Regions from separate parts of the Homo sapiens genome. Here region 1 is linked to region 2. The links come from fine-mapping of genetic effects on gene expression. A gene starts in region 2. The other region holds a variant in brackets. All regions are shown on one strand. Distances are from middle to middle.

Region 1 (4,388 bases), 580 kb before region 2:
GTTTCTATAAGCAGTATTTATAAAACATGTACAGGAATTTCCCTAAGATATAACCTAGAAGAGGAGAGTTCAGTCATGGGTACAAGTGTTTGCAATTTTATTAGATGTTACCAAAATTGTTCTCTAAAATGGTTTTTCCTACCTGCTGAATTCCTGTTTCCCTATATTTTCACCAATACTTTGTATTGTTGTGATTTTCTGTTTTTACCAAGCTAATAATGTGCAATTGAATTTCCTTGTTTAAACCAAATACTCTCACTTACTGTTGAGGCCCAGACATCTTTTCATAGGTATATTGGACATTCAGGGTTCTTCTGTGAATTGTTGGCTTATAGTCTTCATTTTTCTATTGGAATCTTTGTCCTTTAAAATAATGACTTAAAGAAATTCTTTATATTTTTTGAATATTAATCCTTTTTAATTTGTTTTTTACTTTTCCAGAAGTTTATAATTTTAACATTTTCCTTTATGATTTCTGACATTACTGTCTTATCTCCATACCATAAAAACATTCTCTTGAGCATTTAGGTCCTTAAGCCATCTGAAGTTTATTTTTAATTGTGGTGTGAGGTAGGGATCTAATGTTTTTGTTTTTGTTTTCCACATAGGAAGCCAACATACTTATTGAATGGTTCAGTTTGTCCACTAATTTATAACGCCTCCTTTATCATAAACTAAGCTCCATTTTATGGTGGATCTATTTCTGAGCTTTCCATTCTGTTTTACTGATCTATCTGTCTATTCCTGCTCCACCCACCCCCACCTGGCTTCAGCTGAGACTGTCACATAAAACCCATGGCTTTCTATCCTGACTCCCATGTCCAACATCAGCCTCCCCAGTTTTGCCCCACACACGTCTACTAGACCTATCTTTCCAAGAGTCATCATTGCCTAATTTATTGCATGCCCACTGTATGCTAGGCAGCATGCCAACTACACATGCATTATTCATTTGTTTGTCACTGCCCTGTAAGTCAATGCCTATTTTGCCAATCCGGACATCAAGGCTCAGAAATTGAGTAACTTTCCCATGTCACACAGTTAGTAAAAGACAAAGTAGAGACTGGAACTCAGGTCTGTCTCCAAAGTGTTGGTGGCTCTCCAGTTTCATTTTCCAGCATTCTCTACCTCTACAATCTGTCCATCTGTAAAATGGGGATATTCATCCCTCCCTCTCAGGGTTGTTATAAGAATTGTGTGAGATTAGATATGTGAAAGCACTTAGCACAATGCCTAGCCCATAGTAAGTATTCAATAATCATCAGCCAAATTTGAATAAGAAGCAGGCAGCAGTTGCTAAAAGTTTTCTTAAAAAGTCAAACCTTACCCCAGCCCATTTATCCTGGCTTTAGAATCCCAGCAGGAGATGAGTGAGTCAGTGGGGGTGAGTGCTTAGGGATAGAAATAATCTTTGGATCGCTCCCCCTTCCACTCTTCTTCTGGTTAGAGGCTCCCAAGAGCAACAGGAAGGCCAGAATATGGGAAGCTGATGAGGATAGGAAACCCTTAGAAATCATACTGAGTCCCTGCTGAACCTCAGAGGCTGCAGGCCAACTGCTGTTCTGAAGTTCTGGACTTGCACAGCAAGCCTGTCTACTGAATGGCCATCACGACCCAGATTTCACATCTCCAGGTACCTGGGGCTGGAGCGGGGTTTCTTCCTCCCTGTTTGGGCTGCCTGGACTAAGGCTATAGCCAGAGTCTCCTTCTCTTTAGTGACTGCCATGTCAACAAGGCAACTGTAGACCTCCCTCAGAGGAGGCAGGTGAAAGAAGACAGCCTTTCGGGGCAACTCTCTGGCTAATGGGAAGCACATTGATGAAGGAAGCCGACTGACTTGAAAAATCCAGCACCAGCATGCAGGCTGCCTTTAAGGCTGGAGGATTATGGCCACTTGCAATTTTCTTGCTAATTAAAGTTTTCATAGGAAAAGCAAACACATATCTACACATGTATGTATGAACTTGCACGCTGATTGTATTTCAGAAGCAGTGGGCTGAATGCTTTGGTTGCTGGCTTTCTTTGACTCCACCACTCACATCTGCGCTGTGTCATTGACAGCTCTGGCCATGGCCCCAGGGCACTCTGCAGGGGTCAGAA[TA/T]AACAGAGAAAAACAGCAGTGGGGAGGACAGCACACTCTCTCCCTTGTTTGACTTGGAACTCCTGCCTGAGTCTTGCAAGAAGCAATATGTTGAATTTTAAAAGAGGTGAAAACTACGTCAGTTACTGAGAGAGAAATCTGAAAGAGCTATAGCCTATCTTCCTTTGCTGGGATCTGGCCTGGGGTATGGAGGCAGGTGCTCACTGCCACGGGAGTCCTCTGGAAACTGACTTACTTGGAAAGGGCAGGACTTCTCGCTGAAACAGTCTCTGCAGTTTCTCAAAAGTGGGTGGGGATCCTGGGCCCCCATAACATGTCTACATGGTTAAGAAGAATGAGACATCCAACCAGCATTTAGGATTGCAGAGATTTGAAGGAGAAGCAGTTCATTATAGGATCATAAAGGGGCCCCCGTTCCTTGACATGCTAACATGGGAGCACACAGGTTCCCACACAAACCCCTAACACATGGCAGGTGACTTGCATATGCACCCACACCTCCATGGACATGTCCAGGGTTAGGTTAGGTCAAATCTAGGGAATGGCAGCTGCAACCAAACCTATGTCTCCTGCATTCACAAAAGCGTGTCAGAATGAAGGTAAGTTCCAGTAATGTAACAGCAAAGGAACTCACAATTATCATGCTTGATTGTTTGTCACAGATGAACTGTGATGGTGCCATCACATCTGATGGTGCCATCTTGGAGGCAGCAGACCTGATTTCCAGCCCTGGTCCTGGCTGTAACTTGGTGACCTTACGTAGGCCTTCTCGGAACATTGAGCTCTTCATCTGTGAAAGAGTGAGGTTGGGGCTGATGGCCTCAAGGGCACTGGCATAACTAACATTCTCTAGGTCAAGCTCCTATTGTACTTTGCATCACTGGACATGTCTGAGATCCCTGGAAATGAGGATGTACCAGAATTTCCAACTCTCTCGCTATTCCTGCTGGGTCCTGCAACCCTTCTCCAGTGGAAGTTTTCTGCTCCCTTGATTGCCAAATATCCTCTTAATCTCCATCCCTTCCCCCTAATATTCTGTCCTCAGGAAAGGATGTGATAATTGTGTGCCCACTAAGTATCAATTACTAAAGCAGGAGGAAGAATTACCTTTTAACAGAATGAAGCTTTGAACCAAAGGAGTGAAGCCCTAATTGCATAATTGCAGCTGGTGAGTTGAAGGGGAAGGTATTTGGGAGTTAGGACCCTAATTACATAGATGCCTATCCTATTGCTGAAGCCTAAAACGCTACCATTAGCAACTAAGTTCTTTTACTATTAAGGATCTTCTCCCCACAAAAGCAATGTATTAAGATTCAGCAGTCATTTAAGGCCTTGGTAGGAGGGAGTTTTTTGGATCTTTTTTTGTGTATTTTTAATACGGGGGTTCAGGGGAGGTGAGTGTGAAGGCTGGGCAGAAGGCTAGGTGGTTTAGCAGCTGGAGGATGTAAGATGAATGTCCTGAAGGGGAAAAAAACAAAGGGCAGGCCTGGGATTCCAGAAAATAAGTTTCATGTGCCCTACAATTGTGATGAGGGTCTGCCTTGCACTGGGAGCTCCCTTGCAGGGAGGAGGAGGGGCCCAATAAAGAAATCAGAAGGAATTCTAGACATGTTAGAGCAGTGCAGGCCTCAGTGATAAAACAAGAGGCTCTGTTGAGTCACTCCATGGAGACGGGAAGTACCCCCACCCAAAATTTTGTTCAAATGTTAAGACTGATGACACCACCCATGCACCAAGAGGGTATTAAAAAGGTTTATTGCTCAAGTAATGAGGTTTTCTAGGGAGAGCAGGGCAAGCTCCCAAGCACATCTGAAATGTGGCTTGGGCTTTCATGGTGCCTATGGTGTGGGGATGGGGTGAGGGTTCCTGCGTGTGGGCAAAGGTTTATGTGTTGTGTGGCTTCAATTCCTGCTAGTGCTAAAGGAAGGTGAGCCCAGGCATTCTCACCCACCTGCACAGATATGGGGCAGAAGGGGTGGGATGGATGGGGCCTCACAGTCAGACATCAAAAATGGGATTTTGATTTTTTTTTTTTTTTTTTTTTACAAGCTGGGAAGCAGCAACAGATCCAGTTTGTCTCTAAGGCCCATCAAGCCTCTCCCTAACACCAGTAGCCCCCGGGAACCCTGGGCCTCCCAGGTCTTTAATGTTTGTTGGGTGGGGGCTGAAGTGACTTCAGCATTCTCAGGCCAGTGGACCAGGAACTTTCATTCTTTTAGGAACTAGAGAGGCCTGTTAAAAATATATCCTAACTCCACAGACCCCCTGACCTCTGCAGTGTGTGTGT
Region 2 (4,388 bases):
GGGTGGGCCCCGCAATGCCTGCGCCCTAGACGCCGGCCGGGACGAGGGGCTGGCTGGGTCTGAGCCTGGAGAAACACAAGGGTCAGCCCCCAGTGGGCGCAGAGGTGGCCCAGGAGGGCCCGCGGACGGTGCTGCGCTGCGCTCAGCCTCCGGGCCGCTCCCCGCGTTCGGCGCGCACCTGCCCATCGAGGCGGCAGGGCCAGCAGGCGGCCTAGGCGCGGCCGGGCCACGCGGCATCCCCCAAAGCTGGAGCTCGCCGACTCTTCCCTACCTTTTCAAGAGACCGTAGTCGTGCCCAGAACGCCGGCGTGGCCCAGACTCCATTTTGGAACTTCGCAGGCTGGCGTGGACGAAGTAAACACATTTATGGAAAAACCCCGGGGTTAGGAGGTTTGCGGAAAGAGGGAGCAGCTCGTGGGGTTGGAAATTCTGCCTACCCCTCGGGAAAACCAAACGGTTCTGCACCCAACGTACACATACTTAAGGGCGGGAAAGGTGTGAAGCCCGCTGCTGGGGAGTTGCCTCCCCTTTGATGAAAAGGAAGTGCGAAGCGTAGGAACGCTCTTCAGGTCACCACCCCGTGAGTGGGAGGCTTGGGGAGTCTGAAGGAAGAGAAAGCTCCCTCCAAATCTCCCAAACTGAGAAAAGCTGCAGGAGGAATGAGGCAGTTGGAGAGAGAGGACCGCAGGCATCCCGCAGCTGAGGCTCAGGACTGAGCTCTAAAATGAAAGCACCCCTATGGGACCCACCAGGCAAAACGTTAAAAAAAAAAAAAATCTGAATGCTTAGGCATTCTGCTGCTTCCATTCTGTGTGTCAAATCTACTTTGAAGCAGTTAAGTACTGCAGGATATTAAACACTCGAATCTCCGTTTCAAGCTCACTTTTTAATCTTTGCGAACTTAAAATTGGAAAGACAGAAAAAAAATCTGCGACCCCTGTTATGTTTTACCAAAGGAACGAAAAATTCTCTCCACCTCGGCATAAATAAAATAGAAAGAATTTTATCTTAATAAAATAATATCTGGGAGCTTCTGCTTGACTCCCCAATTACTGCTTAACCTTTTGACAGTTTTTAGCCTCTGCTTGTATTTATCTACTTCCCCGCACGATTGAGATTTTTTGAATTGTCCTTTGGGGCGTCTCATTCAAAACCATCTTTCGACGGAACACTTTTGAATTGTACAGCCTCTTGGTTGAAGATCTACGTCCTCAAAGTGCGGGCTTGCCGTGGAGTAACACAGATCCCCTCTGGCAACTCGTCTGGGACGAAGGGCGTTTTTGCTTAGTGTTGATCACGCAAATCACATCTGAAAAGAAGCTGCTTAAAATGGGTGTGTATCATTCCCTTCCTGTCACTCGGTCACCCCTATTCCAGAGAGGTTGAAGTGCTTTTTGCAGTTACACTCACACAAGACCAAACCTTTAGAAGGACCTGAAAAATGTATCACTGCACTTTGAATTCTATTAACTTTCCTGGAGACTGAACATTGAACTCAATTTTTGCTGGGAATGAAGATGTAAATGTTTTGAAAAACTAGAATCGCATTTTCCTAAATTTTAAAAATGATTGTTCTTCACCAATTCCAGATGGATTCTTTATTCTTTGCCAATGGGTTGCAGATGCCCACTGTTTTAACCAAGTTGGTTTACTGCGTATGAAATGAACATTTGCCGATTAAAGCTTAAATATTGGAAGAAATTTCTCCTGGGGCATTCCACGCGTCTTTGCAATAATTACTAAATTAGTCAATTGCCACCTCTGTAAACAAACTTCGTTTAGAAAACAGCAGGCGAAAGCAGACTACACATGTAGTCATAATTGACCAAAAGTATGTACAAAACTGTTTAAAATTGGGGAAAGAGTGATTTATGCTGGAGAATGCAGTCTAGACCTGAATTATTTTACTTTACGGTGAAGGTAGTTGTATTGAATGTGTTAAGATGTGCAAATTAAGCCGGCGAGCGAACCAAATAAAAATACTAAATGCCCTTTGGGATTCTCTGTGGAGTCTTTGAGAGGCAGAGAAGCAGTTGTTGAGTTTCTAATGGTATAAGGAAAAGTGGCAACGAGAAGAAAGGGGGTGGGTATTGTGTTTGTGTGTGAGTTTTGAACTGAGTCACCTACGGCTGCGTCTCTATAACAGGGAAACCTCGAGCAAACCTGTGCCTTTAAGACTCAGTTGCTATCCAAACAGAAGTAAACAGAGTGGACCATTAGCAGACGCCGGGCGCGGAGGCGGAGCCAGGGCGCTGAGGGCCCCGCGCGGCGGCGGGACGCCCGCCCGAAGGGGAGGCGGGGCCGCTACTAAAGCCCAAGACTCCCGGCCTGGGGCAGCCTGGGGAGGGACGCGGGCGGGGACGGAGCTCGGCGTGCTTGCTGCTGGAGGGTGATGGCCCTGCAAGGCTGTGGGCTCCGACCTCACCGGGAGTCGACAGCGAGAGGTTCGCCGAAGAGCGAGGTTCTGGGCGAGCGCTGAACGCCGGCCCCAAGCACCCCGGGTCTTTACACAGTCCGCGTCCACAGACTCTGACGAAGACGTGGATCTGCTCTCGCTTTAGCTGCTCGCGGTCCTCCAGATCATGTCCGCGACTCCTGCGACTCCGCGCGGAAAAAAAAGTTTGCCAGGCGTGGACTCAATGACCTTTCCAAGCTGTGCGCCTCGCTGCCTGGACCGGGTCTGAGCGCGGCTGCCCAGGTTGACCTTTCTGCGGGAGGTGAGTGTTCGCTCTGGGAAGGGGCTGTAGCTGCCCTTTGGAAGGAAGGGTTTGGGGGTGTAAGAGGCGTTCAGATTCTCGGTCTGGTGTGCCCCAAATTCAGATGTGAAAATAGATCATGGGGATGCAATCCCAGGGCACTGTATTTCTCACTTCCTTGGGTCCCTGGCACGCGACTCCCAGCTAACACCCAACCACACACATTTCTACATACTGTTTCTTAATTTTGTTTTGGGATATTTAATCTAAGCGGTCAGCAAGACTTCTTATAAAAGCTGGTCTACGTACACTGAGATCAAACCCCACAATCCCATGGTGTTTCTGCTCCTGCCCTAGCAAGCCTGGGTCGACTTGTCCCGGGGCAGCCGCGGCAGCGCAGCGTGGACGGGCCCGGACACCCGGTGCCTGCCCAGCCAGCGACGCTGAAGGCACATTTCAAGAGGGAAATAGTTCAGTCCTCGGTAATTTGTCAACCTCGTGCTGGCTTTAAAATTCTCCTCCCACCTTCTAGTCCTGACTGAGGGGGCCCAAAAGCAAACTCCCCGGGGGCTTAAACGCTCGGATTCCTGAGAAACGGCAAGTGAGAAAGGAGTTGCAGTTGTACGAAGAAGGAGCGAGGAAAAGGTGTTTGTGGAGGGAGCCCCGGATCTGTCTTCCTACCTGTTAGCCGAGAACAAAAGGGGGCTGGCGTTTCCCGAAGCGAAAGGGCGCAGACAGCCACTTTCTCTGCTAAACAAACTGCAGTCCTGGGCAGAACAAGAAAATTACTCACGCAGGGGGAGCAAGGGGAGCACAGAGAAACAGAACCTAGATTATGCGGAAGGCATCTTAATTTAATTAACTCCTTGGGAAGGCAGAGGCGCTCTGAAGGGGCAGGAACTTCGCAGCCGTTTCTCTATTCACCTGATACAGTCTGGCCCTAACAATCTGTCCTTTAACAATTTTTTTTCTTTTTAATGATCTTCTTTGATCTACTTAGTCTATAGCTCTCTAATTTATATAAAATTCTGCTGTGGTTTGGGCTGAAATTCAGTGAGCCTACCTATCCGACCATCAGTCATTTATCTCATATACCAGTGCACAGGTTTTAGCAGATGAACCCTGACTGTATATTATTTTTAGATAATTCAGTGTAATATTACCATTACCAAAGAGCGAAACTCCTTATCAAGTTACTTCTTAATTTTTTTCTCCAATGTTTTGAAAGCTTCACTGAACTGAAATAAGTGTGTACACATCTTCCTTGGTGACAGCCAGTCAAGTAAATTTTACAAAATTTCTCCACATGCCTGGAAATTCCTGTGAAGAAGACTGATGAAAGAAAAGTAGCCTCAGCTCCACCAACATATTTATGACTTTTCATTGGTTTAAGTTTCTTTCCTTGCAAGATTAAAAGTAACCAGTGGTCTGAAACGGGACGGTGGAGAAATGACAGCAGATGATGATCGCTGTTATTTCCTGAAAGGGAGTGTGGGAACTACAAGGCTCAGCTCTAGACAAAACGAAAGTACTTTAGGATCTCTGCATTCACTTAAAATACTTCTTTTGACATACATTTCCAGCAACTCAATGGGAGTGTGGAAATTTAACCTTCCTAATTATTTGTGGCAAGAGCCATTGGTGGATATTTAAGGTTGTTCTGTTTGTAAAAGGGTTTCAAAAGGACCAATG

Direction of the effects. Positions count from the first base shown, and alleles are read on the strand shown. Sizes are in standard deviations (SD) of each study's normalised expression.
For the expression in left ventricle of the gene that starts at base 2,336 in region 2, TA is the low allele of the variant in region 1 and T is the other (small effect, 0.24 SD a copy in GTEx).

The links. PIP is the estimated chance that this variant, and not a neighbour inherited with it, causes the effect. A credible set is the group of variants that fine-mapping cannot tell apart.
Region 1: its variant is the best candidate, but not a certain one, in a credible set for the expression of OSR2 in left ventricle (GTEx, PIP 0.74).

What each region holds. Positions count from the first base shown.
Region 1 is chr8:98,365,965-98,370,352 of GRCh38, forward strand. LOC124901988 (a long non-coding RNA gene) reads left to right here and starts at 1,550. Exons shown (of 2, transcript XR_007061024.1): 1 at 1,550-1,633; 2 at 1,717-1,937. It also overlaps a transcript of STK3 not described here. The variant TA/T (reference allele first, on the strand shown) is at 2,101.
Region 2 is chr8:98,942,107-98,946,494 of GRCh38, forward strand. It overlaps OSR2 (odd-skipped related transciption factor 2), which reads left to right and starts at 2,336. Exons shown (of 4, transcript NM_001142462.3): 1 at 2,336-2,717. LOC112268016 (collagen alpha-1(I) chain-like) reads right to left here and starts at 504. Exons shown (of 2, transcript XM_047422523.1): 1 at 1-504. The coding sequence starts at 237. It also overlaps a transcript of STK3 not described here. RefSeq lists silencers at 1-242, 2,095-2,454 and enhancers at 2,600-3,100, 3,101-3,601.